Homo sapiens: one gene and its partners. The protein of the gene in region 4 interacts with the protein of the main gene of each other region in a pairwise test. Each region holds a gene or a part of one and is shown on either strand. Other genes may lie near its edges.

Region 1 (3,592 bases), on a different chromosome or scaffold from region 4:
AGCTTTGGAAATGATTAAGAGTGTAAGAGTAAAGGCAAAAGGAACTACACATAAGCACTGTACTCTAGTTGATAAAGTTATTACCCATGGGTGTACAAGTTAACAATTCTGATAATGCTATACATGTATATGGGAATTAAACAATTACGTAAATCAATAGCAAATGTTTGAGAGCCGGGTTTCTCATTGTTGGAGCGGGAATTTACAGATAAGCAAAGGGCTGGAAACAGCATGAACTCGTGTACCTTAATACAATATAGATGGTTAGTTACATATAGAAATATTTATAGATAAGTGTATATACATGGGTTAGTGTGTGTATTTCTTGGCTTTCTCAGCTGAAAGGGTCTATAAGCAATGACATCCCAGTAGCAATGAGCTCACCTAGTACCCATATCTTGGTTTCTAATATCATTCTCCAATAAAAGGTACCAGGGCTCCTTGGAGAAATGGTTGATTCTAGGACTGGGGCAAGAAATACACAAGATGGACCTGGACCATCTCTTAATGCCAGTAATAAAGAAGTATTCAAAACAAACAAGAAAAACAAAAACGTCTATTGATGAGGATATGTCAAAAGGATATAGGAGCTAACTAAGAGAGCTCCCACTGACCAAAGCTGAAAGAATTTGAGCATCAAAATTTTAAAAATAGCATTGGATAATAACTCAAAGTATAAACTAAATATCCATGAGTCCATACTGATATAAATAAATGAGGGAGAAGAGACATGTCTTCCATGCTGAAGAATTCCAAATAATATATGTAACTATTCTGCCCTCAAGTAGAGGGAGCATAACTCCCCACTCCTAAGGTGCTGGCTATACATGTTAACTTCCTGCTAGTGTGTACATATGGAAAGGGAGGAAAAAGGTAACTTTACAGTGGGGAAACCTGAGAAATACTGCCTTAGCCAGGCGATCAAGGTCAGTAGCAACAGTGATAAATCACATTAATATCATGTATCATTGATGTGATATGATGAAGATGGTACTTTATCTCGGTGGTCTTCCTGTCAAAAACCCATTTTCTCTAGTCTAATGAGAAAAACATCAGACAAATTCCAGTAGAGGGGCATTTGACAAAATACTTGACTGGTACTCCTAAAAACTGTCAAAGTCATCAAAAACAAGGAAAGGCTAGAAAACTGTCACAGCCAAACAGTCTAAGGAAACATGACAAATAAATATAATGTGGTATCCTAGATAAGACCCTAGGATAGAAAAAGGACATTGGTACAAACTAAGGAGATCTGAAAAAAGTACAGTTTAGTTAATAATAACATTTCAATATTGGGTCAGTAATTGTAACAAATGCGCCATACTAATGTAAGATGTTAATAGTAGGGGAAGCTGGGTGAAGGCATGTCTTAGTCCACTTGGGCTAATATAAGAAAGTACCATAGACTGGGTGGCTTTCACAACAGACATTTATTTCTCACAGTTCTGGAGGCTGGGAAGTCAATAACGGTGGGTATAAGAGAACTGTGCATGATCTCAGTGTTTGAGTCTACAAAAATAAAAGGCAGAGGAATATAATTAGGTAGAGTTTGTTTTGCTTTTTTCAAGGGAAATTTGAGCATATTAGTATGTGATGGAAGATTTACTGAAGGAGGAAGGTTAAAGATGAAAAAAATAGCAGGAGTTATCAATTGAATAGATGATAATAAGTGTATAAGTGGTAAGACAAACAATAGAGAGGAGGGATGTATTTTTCTCCAAGTTGGAGGAAAAGGATTAAAAGACAGAAAAAAATGCAGAGCAGTTTTAGCATGGAGTAACAGACATGTGACAGTATCAGGTAAATATATTCTCAATAGAGGTGTTAGGTGTCAAGGTCCAGGGGATGGGGATGTAGATTTGTTTTATATACAGAGATAATTTTACTTTGTTGATTGTCTACCATTATATAAGAACCTGTTGTGCTGGTATACTTTACATCACAAGGATTTGTAAAACTCAGAAACCTTAATAGGTACGTCTTAAATTTAAATAAAGGAGAGAAGAAAGGAAAGATTATAAATTTACTAATGTCAAGTTTAAATTATTCTAGGTTTCAAATCCTGGCAGATATTACACATCTAAATTAGCTGTAGGGCACTGAATTTGCAAAACAAATCTTTTTGAAAACATAGTGCATAGAAGAAATGGAATTTCTTTCTTTTTTTTTTTTTGAGATGGAGTCTCACTGTCACCCAGACTGGAGTGCAGTGGTGTGTTCTCAGCTCACTGCACCCTCTGCCTCCCGGGTTCAAGGGATTCTCCTGCCTCGGCCTCCCGAGTAGCCGGGACTACAGGTGCATGCCACTACACTCGCCTAATTTTTGTATTTTTAGTAGAGATGGGGTTTCACCATGTTGTCCAGGAGGTCTCGAACTCCTGACCTCAGGTGATCCACCCACCTTGGCCTCCCAAAGTGCTGGGATTACAGGCATGAGCCACTGTGCCTGGCCAGAAATGGAATTTCTTTTAATTTCAGTGAAATCACTTGGGCTTTGTACAAATGGAAGCTGACACTAAACATTTTTTAGGACCTGTCAGTAGTTACTTGGTTGAATTAAATGTGTCATAATGGCTTGAATACAGTTTCTCAAATAGTACTTATGTGTATATGCTCACACCATTTTAAGGAGATGGGGGATTGATGGTTAACATTTTTTTTTCATTTGTACTTTATTTAGTGACTAACCAATAAAGTAATAGATAATAGAGTACTAACTTTATGTGTTACTACTACTACTTTATGAGTAACTCGAGACCTTTGCATATATATTAATGCTTTTATTAAAATATATATTTTGATAAATACCTGGTCATTGTAAAAAGTTTAGAAAGTGCAGATTAGTAAAAAGTTCTTAAATCTCACAAATAACCACTGTTAACATTTTTTTGGTGTACTATCCTCCCAATATTTTATATGTATATTTTTTACCAATTGTATATATTGTAAACACATATGTAACCCCTGTGTTCCTTCTAAGCTCAGTCACTGGAAAACAGAAGAATACCATTCTGTAGCTGAAAAGATTTTAGAAATGATAAAAGCCAGTGATTTTTTTTTCCTGATCTTTTTCTTTTTTAAACATCAGAATCCTTTCTTAAGGTAGTAAATATAAAATTGAAGCTGTGTAGAGTGTCCTGCCCCCCAGTCTTTCCCCTTCCCTGAAAGTAAATAAAAATCTGCGTCCGTAAGTGTTGCCAAGAATTCCTACTGAAAATAATTTTGCTCTACCCTCTAATATTCTGCTCTGTTAAAGGAATTTTGAGTTAATTTATTTCCCATTTTCTCAGTTTAAATTTTTTTTTTATTTTCTGCAGTAAAAACTAGATTTTCATATGCCTTTCCAAAGGAATTTCCTTATAGGATGAATCATGTAAGTATATGATATAAAATGGAACAATTATCAAAGCTATATATAAACTAGCTCTATTTTATATTAGACTAAATTTAATAGTTTCCTAGAAATGGCAGTTTCAAATATTACATAAATACAGACATTATTCTAAATTAAAGCTAAATAGCTTTTACCATTTAAAAAAAATACTTCATAGTGGCGATTATCAACCCTGGCTGCTCATTAAATCACCTTGGG
Region 2 (3,592 bases), on a different chromosome or scaffold from region 4:
GAATAGTGTGGCCCTGAGACCTCAAGACAAAATGCTGTAAATATCAGGTATTGTTAACTGACCTGCTGTGCACAGTGGGTATTTGTCAGAACTACTGTGCTGAGAAAAGGCACAGGAGACACATGGTCATGGTGATAGGTTGTGGTGTTTAGTGACATGGATTATTAATAGTGATTGATAGAAGCTGAAAAACTTTTGTGGACGTGTGTTTCATTTTTCATGTTTTCAATTAAAATGGAGATAAGATGTCTTAAGCTGTTTGGTAAGCCACAAGTGCTTGGGGAAAATGTATACTTTTATACAGTATTGTACATAATTTAAGTGATATAAACATAGTTCAAGATAAACGATTGTTTTCCTGATGTGCCAATTTTTTGTAGCAGTTATGGAGTATGGTTTTGGACATCAGTCATCAAATGTTTATCAAATGCTTCCTTCTATATATTCTATGTTGCTTGATGAAAGTCAACCAACCTCTTATAGTTGGGGACTTACTTGTTTCTCAGCTATTAGGATTATTTATTTTATATGTAATTCTTAATGTATGATACCCAAATACTCTCCTTTGTTTTCAGCCTTCCTTTTTTCAAAAGTTACCAGTTAATTTTGTAATGTTTTTTTAAAAAGTTTTATATTTCCAGAGCTTATTTTAAAAATGATTTGGTTAATTTGTAATTTGATCAGAAAATAGTGGGCATAAAAAACACATTATAATCTTTATATTTTGCATTTTGAGTATTTATAGACATGGTTTGTTGGATAGTAGAATCTGGGATCCTGTTAGGTGATTGCTTATTTCCATACATGTTTTGAACTTGATCCTTGCTTCTGTATCTTATAATCGGTTGAAGTGAAAACCAAAGAACTAGGAGGTAGAGGCAGCAGTGAGTTAAAAGGTGTTAAAGAGATCAATACATACTGAGAGTCTGCTGGCATAGTGGCCAAAGGTGGTGCAGGGGTGGGGGTGCGGTGGTGGTGGTTGGGAGGGCAGGGTCAGGGAGTCTGGGGCAGGAAGCTGGGGGACAGTGATGGCTCTAATAATCTCTTTTAACACTTTATGGTCCAGACTCTAAAGCAGATTACCTGAGGTCTTTACCTAGTGACCATTTCCAGAGGCTGGCTAGTCCTACAAAAGAGTTGCTGGTGCTGGTCCTGGTCACTTGCCTCCATTTTTCCTCCCAATTAACTAAAACGTGACTCTCTTGAATTGTGGTTTAAGTGCACTTTAAGCATTGTAAACCACAAATTAAGGCCCAATAATAAAATTTTTCCACATGAGAAATGTTATCTAATTGGTCAGGTACATGATTTAGATAATCAAGATGGCAATGGAACTATAAAATAAAACTGTGTGTTTGGCCAACATATTGTATTTGAGTGAGAAGTTGTGTTTCTGATCAGTCTGTTGTGAATCATCTTCCCTCTTCTATAGCTATAGTCATTCAAGGCAGACATGGTGTTTTACATAATTTGATCACCATGTGATGTGTTGGGCACAGTTATACTGAAGAATTGTTGTTTATTCAAACTCTTGAATTTTAAATCTACAATAAAAGGTTTCTGTGTGGTCTTCTCTGGCCTTTTTTCTTCCTGTATATTGGTTTACTGAGAACTTGTTTAGTCTGATTGCAGTAATTTTGACTTCCAGCTCTTCTCTGTCAATCAAACCTTTATGAATTCTTCCCTATGGGCCAGACACTTTTCTAAGCACTTCAGAAATATCAACTCATTTAATCCTCACAACAACCCTTTGAAGTAGGTACTATTATCCCTTTTTTATGAGTGAGGAAACTAATATGATCACTTTCTGTTACGTTAACCCAAAGGTACACAAAATATACCAGAATCCTGGCTTTATGTCAAGGAATGCAGCAAGCTTTATTTTCTGTTTACTGATATCTACTAAGTGTAGAAATAATGACACTAATTATTATGCTTGGGCTTTCCTCCCCCATCTTATTTTCTCTTTTTGCTAAAAAGAAACAAAACCTAAAGTCATAAAACAAGAAGCATTTCTTCATAGCATATTGTGACATGTACCAGTATTCTTTTCTGTACATAGAAACTAGAATAATTTATGAAAAAGATGTTTTCCAAAGGTAGTTGTTCCTTAATTTATTATTCGTATTCATATATTAAAAGAATATAGTCAGCCTTGCATATCTGCAGGTTCCACATCTGCAGATTCTATCAATTATGGATTGGAAATATTTGGAAAAATATTTGGAAAATATTCCAAAAAATAATTCAAATAAGAAACCCAGTCTAAGAACTATTTACATGGTATTTACATTGTATTAGGTATTATAAGCAATCTACAGATGATTTAAAGTACATGGCAGGATGTACATAGGTTATATGCAAATACTATGCCATGTTATACCAGGGACTTGAGCATCCTCAGATTTTGGTATCCTTGGGGGTCCTGGAGCCAGCCCCCCTGCAGATATTGAGGGGTGACTACATATTTTCTGTGGTATTGGCCTTGCTATATACATGTAAATCTATCTTGGAAATGTTGATCCATTTGCATTGCCTCACGGGGTTATCCTCAACCTGGGCTCACCTGCTCTTTCCTAGGCTACCTCTTACATGTGCTAAGGACTAAGTGATACTCCCTTCTCACTCCCTCCCAGTAGAACTCTGCATGTCCCTCCTCTGAAATAACACATGTTCTTACTGTCTCCATAGAAGAATGATTAAGCATTTTAATTTCAGGAGCTTATTTAAGCTATGTGAAAAGTAGGACTAAATAAGAGACAGGTGTTCATAAAAGCAAGTGAGTAAACATAGTTCTGTAGGTTCTTTTAATAGTAAATATTGTAATAACTACCATTTATTAAGCATTTACTTGGTGCCAGGTACGCTATTAAGTATTCCACACAAGCTGTCTCTTTTGATTGTCACCATAATTCTTGTTTCCTCATCTATAAAAGGCTAATAAATAGCTTATCCAAGATTGTACAGAGTTGGTAGATTTAAAAACATGATTTGTGTGGATAAACCACAATCTGAATTTGACTATGATTGCTTTGTTAATTACCAGCAGACAAAAAATGCCTTTCTGCTGCAGTGAAGATGCTTTTGGGATTATGTTACTTTGGAAAGAGTGGCAGTTGAGGACTGCCTGGTGGAGCAAATTCAGAGTGGCAGGTATGGCTGGCTGAGAAGGAGGAGGTAGTTCTCAGGAGGTAGCCAAGAAAAAGACATCGTTGTTCACAGTTATTGCTGCAGACCTCAGATGGGCTTTTAGAGTAGAAAGAGACAGAGAACCCCTATCCTCAAGTCTATTTTTGGAACAAAAACCAAAATTAAATGGAGTTATTTTCTGTCTCCTGAATTTGTGTTTTGTTTTATACTGTGTTCTGGATTGGAAATGAACAAGGACAAGGGCTACATGAGTGGTATAGGATGAAATGAAATGAAAAGTAACTCAATAAATGTCATATCCCCCAGGCTAAATTCCCTCAGGGTCAGAGCAACATGCTTTTTGCTACAGTGGGAGATTTCCTTGTTTTAGGATGCCGAAGGTCTGGAGTGTGGTATCAGGGATGAAGTTAGAAGTTTGGAAAGATGTTTTCATTTGGGTCAT
Region 3 (3,592 bases), on a different chromosome or scaffold from region 4:
GTTCTTAGCTGTAGACTCATTTATTCTTGCTGTGTAGTATTCCACTGCGCCTGGTTACTCTTGATTATATGTTGTACATGGTATTTGAAAACTTATGGGAATTTTAGCTGGGCATGGTGGTGCACGCCTGTGGTCCCAGCTACTCGGGAGGCTGAGGTGGGAGGATTGCTCGAGCCTGGGAGGCGAAGGTTGCAGTAAGCCAAGATCACACCACTGCGCTCCAGCCTGGGTGACAGATTGAGACCCCATCTCAAAAAAAAAAAAAAAAAAAAAAAAGAAAAGAAAAGAAAATGTACTTATAGGAATCTTTGAGGCCAGGATGATGGTATCATTTTCCAGAGAGGACTTAGTTTCTCCCTGGTCCCTAGGAGTAGGGGAGTCTACTAGTAGGAGACTAATTAAAGTTTAAGGCTTGAGCTTTGCTGGACCACCTGCATAGATGATGCAAAGCTCAGCTGTGTTTTGCTTTTACCACTACTTACTTTTTTTTTTGAGATGGAGTCTCGCTCTGTCGCCCAGGCTGGAGTGTAGTGGCACAATCTCAGCTCACTGCAATCTCCGCCTCCCAGGTTCACACCATTCTCCTGCCTCAGCCTCCCGAGTAGCTGGGACTACAGGTGCCTGCCACCACGTCCGGCTAATGTTTTGTATTTTTAGTAGAGATGGAGTTTCACCATGTTAGTCAGGATGGTCTCAATCTCCTGACCTTGTGATCTGCCCGCCTCGGCCTCCCAAAGTGCTGGGATTACAGGCGTGAGCCACTGCGCCCGGCCACTCTTTTTTTTTTTTAATTAAAAAAATTTTTTTGATTGGGCACAGTGGCTTATACCAATAGTTCCAGCACTTTGGGAGGCTGAGGTGGGAGGAGCACTTAAGCTCAGGAGTTGAGACCAGCTTGGGCAGCACAGTGAGACCCTGCCTCTATTCTGTAAAAAACAAAAAAACAAAAAATTTAATTTAAAAAAATTTTATGGCTGGGTATGGTGGCTCATACCTGTAATCCCAGCACTTTGGGAGGCTGAGGCAGGTGGATCACTTGAGGTCAGGAGTTCAAGACCAGCCTGGCCAACATGGTGAAACCCTGTCTCTACTAAAAACAAAAATTAGCTGGGCGTGGTCGCGCATGCCTGTAATCCCAGCTACCTGGGAGGCTGAGGTAGGAGAATCGTTTGAACCAAGGAGGCGGAGTTTGCAGTGAACCAAGATCGTGCCACTGCACTCCAGCCTGGGCGACAGAGCAAGACTCCACCTCAAAAAAAAAAAAAAAGTTATGAGTACATAGTAGGTATACATATTTATTGGGTTTATGAGATATTTTGATGCAGGGATACACTGTAATAATCACTTCAGGGTAAACAGAGTAGCCATCACCTCAAGCATTTATCATTTTTTTGTGTTACAAACATTCCTATTCTTTTAGTTACTTTAAAATGTACAGTAGATTATTGTTGACTGTAGTCACTCTGTTGTGCTATCAAATACTAGATTTTATTCCTTATATCTAACTTTATTTTTGTACCCTTACTTACTTTTATTTCTGGTTGATCCTTACCTTGAAAGTGTAGTCTTTGGGATTCCAGCTTAAAATGGGGGTGTTATCAGAGTCCTCATCTCTGAGGGCCCCTGAGCTTCGACTATCATCTCTCCCAACCCCAGTCAAAGCCCAGAATGTTGCCTAAAGGACAGCTTTTGGCCAAGCCAACAGGGCCAAAAAAAGGGCCAGCTGGTTGGAGTCCTGAGTACCCATCAGGCCTTGCGGGAGGTGCTGTAACTGCCTATGCTACTGTCCTCTTATTTGGGCAGGCATTGGGTCAAGGAGGAGCAGAACAGACCCTTTCGTGGTCAGAATGTTTGCCTGGCTTATGTCCCCAGACAAACCAGGGCTCATCAGTCTATTGTTCTGCTTTTCATTCCAGCCTAATTCAGTGGTTTGAGACAGCACCAAGTCGGACCTGCCCACAGTGCCGAATCCAGGTGAGAGTATTGGGGTGGGACCACCTCAACTGAAGAGATCTCCTTAGCAGAGAGCAGGAATGTGAAAAGAGCTCTGAAACTGCAATATCTCTGACCTTTTTTGGACCCTCCTGGTTTAAGGCCAGTTGAGCCTCACTTGTGCCCTTGAGTGTTTGGGAGGTCTGCTTACACCCACAGGTAGCTGGCAGATGGACTTGTTGCCTGGGCCAGTTTTCACTTGGGTAGATTTGGCTGGCCTCCTTCCCTGTCTTTTCATCAGTGACTCCGCACCTAGAGTTCAGGTATCTTTTGAGCACTTAACCGTGTAGGTCTGTAGTAATATGACTTCAGTGACCACGAAACCAGCAGCCCCAACTTGGGGTACCTGCAGGAGTAAAGAGGTCTTTTGACTCTAAAGGATGTACTTTGAAAAATTAGGTCTGAGAACAGGCCTGACATGCATGTCAGGCAGGTAGTCAGACCCATGTACAACACTCTCCTCCTTGCGCATGACCCAGCTACACAATCATACTCTTACCTTGTTCTCCCATCCAGGTTGGCAAAAGAACCATTATCAATAAGCTCTTCTTTGATCTTGCCCAGGAGGAGGAGAATGTCTTGGATGCAGAATTCTTAAAGGTACCCAGAATTTATCTGATTCTACTGAACTCCAAGCCTTGTGCGAGTTCACTTTTCTTTTTTCTTTTCTTTTCTTTTTTCTCTTCTCTTCTCTTCTCTTCTCTTTTCTCTTTTCTTTTCTTTTCTTTTCTTTTCTTTTTTTAGAGACAGGGTCTTACTTTGTTGCCCACACTGGAGTGCAGTGGTGCAATCATAGCTCACTATAACCTCAAACTCCTGAGTTCAAGGGATCTCCCCACCTCAGCCTACCTAGTAGCTAGGACTGTAGGGGTGCACCACCATGCTCGGTTAATTTTTTTATTTTATTTATTTATTTATTTATTTATTTATTTATTTATTTATTTTGAGATGAAGTCTCACTCTGTCACCCAGGCTGGAGTGTAGTGGCGTGATCTTGGCTCACTGCAACCTCTGCCTCCTAGGTTAAAACAATTCTCCTGCTTCAGCCTCCCGAGTAGCTGGGACTACAGGCACGTGCCACCATACCCGGCTAGTTTTGTGTTTTTAGTACAGACGGGGTTTCACCTTGTTGGCCAGGCTGGTCTCGAACTCCTGACCTGAAGTGATCCACCCACCTCGGCCTCCCAAAGTGCTGAGATTGCAGGCGTGGGCCACCGTGCCCAGCCCTAATTTATAAAAAAAAATTTTTATAGAGATAGGGCCTTGCTATGTTACCCAGGCTGGTCTTGAACTCTTGGGCTCGAGCAATCCTCCCACCTTGGCCTCCCAAAGGGCTGAGATTACAGGCATGAGCCACTGTGCCTGGCCTGGGAGTTCACTTTCTATTTCCACATAAGTGGAGGGTTCCTGGAATATGGAGATGAAGTTATAGAGGTGAGACTTGGTACAGTTTTCAAGGTGGGGACACAAAAATCAGAGGACAACTGATGAGACACAGTCATCAGAGAAATGCACTGTGAGGGAAGAGGGGAGCTGCTTGACTGTAAACCCTCCCTTTGGGATTTCAGGTCAATTCCAACCTGAATTCTCTCCTGCGGTC
Region 4 (3,592 bases):
AAGAAAAGTTCATTTACTTAAGAATCTCGGCCAGGCGCGGTGGCTCACGCCTGCAATCCCAGCACTTCGGGAGGCCAAGGCTGGCAGATCACCTGAGTCCCGGAGTTCGAGACCAGCCTGACTGACCACCATGGAGAAACCCGGTCTCTACTAAAAATACAAAATTAGCTGAGCGTGGTGGTGCATGCCTGTAATCCCAGCTTCTCGGGAGACTGAGGCAGGAGAATCGCTTGAACCCGGGAGGCAGAGGTTGCAATGAGCTGAGATTGTGCCACTGCACTCCAGCCTGGGCAACAAGAGCAAAACTGTCTCAGAAAAAAAAAATTGCAATATTACCAGAATTCCTTTGGGACTGTCTCCTGAAATTTGAGGTCAGTCTTAACTTTCCTCTAGAACTCAGCTCAAGAAGGCTGGGTGAGGTGGCTCATGCCTATAATCCCAGCACTTTGGGAGGCTGAGGCAGGAGGACTGCTTGAAGCCAGGAGTTCAAGACCAACCTGGGCAACACAATGAGACCCCATCTCTACAAAAAATAAAAATTAGCCAGGTGTGGTGGCACACACCTGTAGTCCCAGCTACTCGGGAGGCTGAGGTGGAAGGCCTGCTAGAACCCAGGAGGTCAAGGCTGCAATGAGCTATGATTGTGCCCCTGGGCGACAGAGTGAGACCCCATCTCAAAAAAAAAAAAAAGGCACCTAGCTCAAGAACCTCCCTCATACAGTCATACAGGCCAGGCACGACGGCTCATGCCTGTAATCCCAGCACTTTGAGAAGCCAAGGCAGGCGGATCACCTGAGGTCTGAAGTTCGAGACCAGCCTGGCTAGAAACCCCATCTCTACTAAAAATAGGAAAATTAGCTGGGTATGGTGGCATGCGCCTGTAATCCCAGCTACTGGGTCAAGCAGGAGAACTGCCTGACCTGGGAAGCAGAAGCTGCAGTGAGCCAAGATCATGTCACCGCACTCCAGCCTGGGTGAGAGAGTGAGATTCCATCTCAAACAAAACAAAACAAAAAAACTCCAGGTGGGGTGGCTCACACATGTAAGCCCAGCACTTTGGGAGGCCAAGACAGCCAGATCACCTGAGGTCAGGAGTGTGAGACCAGCCTGGTCAACATGGTGAAATCCAGTCTCTACTAAAAATACAAAAAAAATTAGCCGGGTGTGGTGGCGCATGCCTGTAATTCCAGCCATTCTGGAGGCTGAGGCCTGAGAATCACTTGAAGCCAGGAGGCGGAGGCTGCAGTGAGCCGAGATAAAGCCACTGCACTCCAGGCTGGGTGACAGAGACTCTGACTCAAAACAAAACAAAAACAAAAAAGAACCTCCCTCATTCAAATACCCTCAGAATCCCATAGCATTTACACTTTGCCCCTCCCATTTTTATCTATCCTTTGTCCTGTATCTCCAACCAATTAAGCCTTTTGGGGCTGTGGTCAACATGTTCGGTAACTGTTAATAATGTATTCACTGGGAAATAAGAGTATATAGTCTTGGCTGGGCATTGTGGCTCACACTTGTAATCTTATCACTTTGGGAGACCAGCCTGGCCAACATCATAAAACCCTGTCTCTACTAACAATATAAAAAATTGGCTGGGCGGTGGGGCGCGCCTGTAATCCCAGCTACTTGGTAGGCTGAGGCAGGAGAACCGCTTGACCTGGGAGGTGGTGGCTGCAGTGAGCTTGGATCATGCTACTGGACTCCAGCCAGGGTGACACAGTGAGATTCCATCTGGGAAAAAAAAAAAAAAAAAGTCCAGGCATGCCAGGCATGGTGGCTCACCATTTAAGCCAAGCACTTTGGGAGGCCCAGGCAGGCAGATCATCTGAGGCCGCGAGTTTAAGACCAGCCTGGCCAATACAATGAAACCCTGTCTCTACTAAAACTACAAAAATTAGCTGGGTATTGTGGCCGGACAGGGTGGTTCACACCTGTAATCCCAGCACTTTGGGAGGCCAAGGCAGGCAGATCACGAGGTCAGGAGATCGAGACCATCCTGACTAACACGGTGAAACCCCGTCTCTACTAAAAAAAAAATACAAAAAATTAGCTGGGAGTGGTCGTGGACGCCTGTAGTCCCAGCTACTCAGGAGGCTGAGGCAGGAGAATGGCATGAACCTGAGAGGCGGAGCTTGCAGTGAGCTGAGATAGCGCCACTGCACTCCAGCCTAGGTGACAGAGCGAGACTCCGTCTCAAAAAAGAAAATTAGCTGGGCATGGTGGCGCATGCCTGTAATCCCGGGATCCCAGCCATTCCAGAGGCTGAGGTATTGGTTGAACCTGGGAGGCGGAGGTTGCAGTGAGCTGAGATCGCGCCACTGCACTCCAGCCTGGGTGACAAAGCGAGACTCCGTCTCAAAAAAAAAAATTAGCTGGGCGTGGTGGCGCATGCCTGTAATCCCGGGATCCCAGCCATTCCAGAGGCTGAGGTATTGGTTGAACCTGGGAGGCGGAGGTTGCAGTGAGCTGAGATGGAGCCACTGCACTCCAGGCTGGGTGATAGAGCCGAGACTCTGTCACAAAAACAAAACAAAACAACAACAAAAAGGAATCTCTCTCATGCAGATACCCTTTAGAATCCCATAGCATTTACTCTTTGCCCCCACCATTTTTATCTATCCTTTGTCTGCCCTGTATCTCTAACCAGTTAAGCCTTTTGGGGCTATAGTCAATATTTTCAATAACTGTCAATAATGTATTCACGGGAAATAAGAGTATATAGTCTTGGCTGGGCACGGTGGCTCACGCCTGTAATCCCAGCACTTTGGGAGGCCAAGGCAGTTGGATCACTTGAGGTCAGGGGTTCGAGACCAGCCTGGCCAACATGGTAAAACCCTGTCTCTACTAACAATACAAAATATTAGCTGGGCGTGGTGGGGTGCGCCTGTAATACCAGCTACTCAGGAGGCTGAGGCACGAGAGTCGCTTGAACCCGGGAGGCAGAGGCTGTGGTGAGTTGAGATCGTGCCACCATACTCCAGCCTGGACAACAGAGCAAGACTCTGTCTCCCAAAAAAAAAAAAAAAAAAACCCAGGTGCAGTGGCTCATGCCTGCAATCCCAGCACTTTGGGAGGCCGAGGCGGCAGATCACAAGGTCAGGAGCTCGAGACCAGCCTGGCCAATACGGTAAAAACCCGTCTCTACTAAAAATACAAAAACAAAAACAAAAAAAAACAAAAAAAAACATTAGCCATGCATGCTGGCACATGCCTGTAATCCCAGCTACTCAGGAGGCTGAGACAGGAGAATTGCTTGAACCCGGGAGGCGGAGGTTGCGGTGAGCCGAGATGGCGCATTGCACTCCAGCCTGGGCGACAGAGGGAGACTCCGTCTAAAAAAAAAAAAAAAAAAAAAGGTGTATAGTCTTTAAGAAGGGGTGACAGGCCAAGCATGGTGGCTCACGTCTGTAATCCCAGCACTTCAGGTGGCCAAGGCCGGAGGATCACTTCAGTCCAGGAGTTCGAGACCAGCCTGGGCAACATGGTGAAACCCCGTCTCTACAAAAAATTACATAAATTAGCTGGGCATGGTGGCAGACGCCTTTAGTCCCTGCTACTTGGAAGGCTGAGGTAGGAGGATCATCTAAGC

What was found. The genes of interacting proteins can lie anywhere in the genome.
Region 1: the proteins of UBE2K (region 4) and CCNC interact in binary tests that used the Homo sapiens proteins (3 or more experiments, as listed by UniProt).
Region 2: the proteins of UBE2K (region 4) and RNF182 interact in binary tests that used the Homo sapiens proteins (3 or more experiments, as listed by UniProt).
Region 3: the proteins of UBE2K (region 4) and TRAIP interact in binary tests that used the Homo sapiens proteins (3 or more experiments, as listed by UniProt).

The regions. Positions count from the first base shown.
Region 1 is NC_000006.12:99,551,621-99,555,212, reverse strand, and holds part of CCNC (cyclin-C), read left to right. Parts: intron 1-1,411; exon of another isoform or gene 1,412-3,317; coding exon 3,318-3,373; exon of another isoform or gene 3,374-3,592. UniProt on the Homo sapiens protein: Component of the Mediator complex, a coactivator involved in regulated gene transcription of nearly all RNA polymerase II-dependent genes.
Region 2 is NC_000006.12:13,927,900-13,931,491, forward strand, and holds part of RNF182 (E3 ubiquitin-protein ligase RNF182), read left to right. Parts: intron 1-3,592. UniProt on the Homo sapiens protein: E3 ubiquitin-protein ligase that mediates the ubiquitination of ATP6V0C and targets it to degradation via the ubiquitin-proteasome pathway.
Region 3 is NC_000003.12:49,846,525-49,850,116, reverse strand, and holds part of TRAIP (E3 ubiquitin-protein ligase TRAIP), read left to right. Parts: intron 1-1,916; coding exon 1,917-1,974; intron 1,975-2,508; coding exon 2,509-2,592; intron 2,593-3,592. UniProt on the Homo sapiens protein: E3 ubiquitin ligase required to protect genome stability in response to replication stress.
Region 4 is NC_000004.12:39,704,636-39,708,227, reverse strand, and holds part of UBE2K (ubiquitin-conjugating enzyme E2 K), read right to left. Parts: intron 1-3,592. UniProt on the Homo sapiens protein: Accepts ubiquitin from the E1 complex and catalyzes its covalent attachment to other proteins. In vitro, in the presence or in the absence of BRCA1-BARD1 E3 ubiquitin-protein ligase complex, catalyzes the synthesis of 'Lys-48'-linked polyubiquitin chains.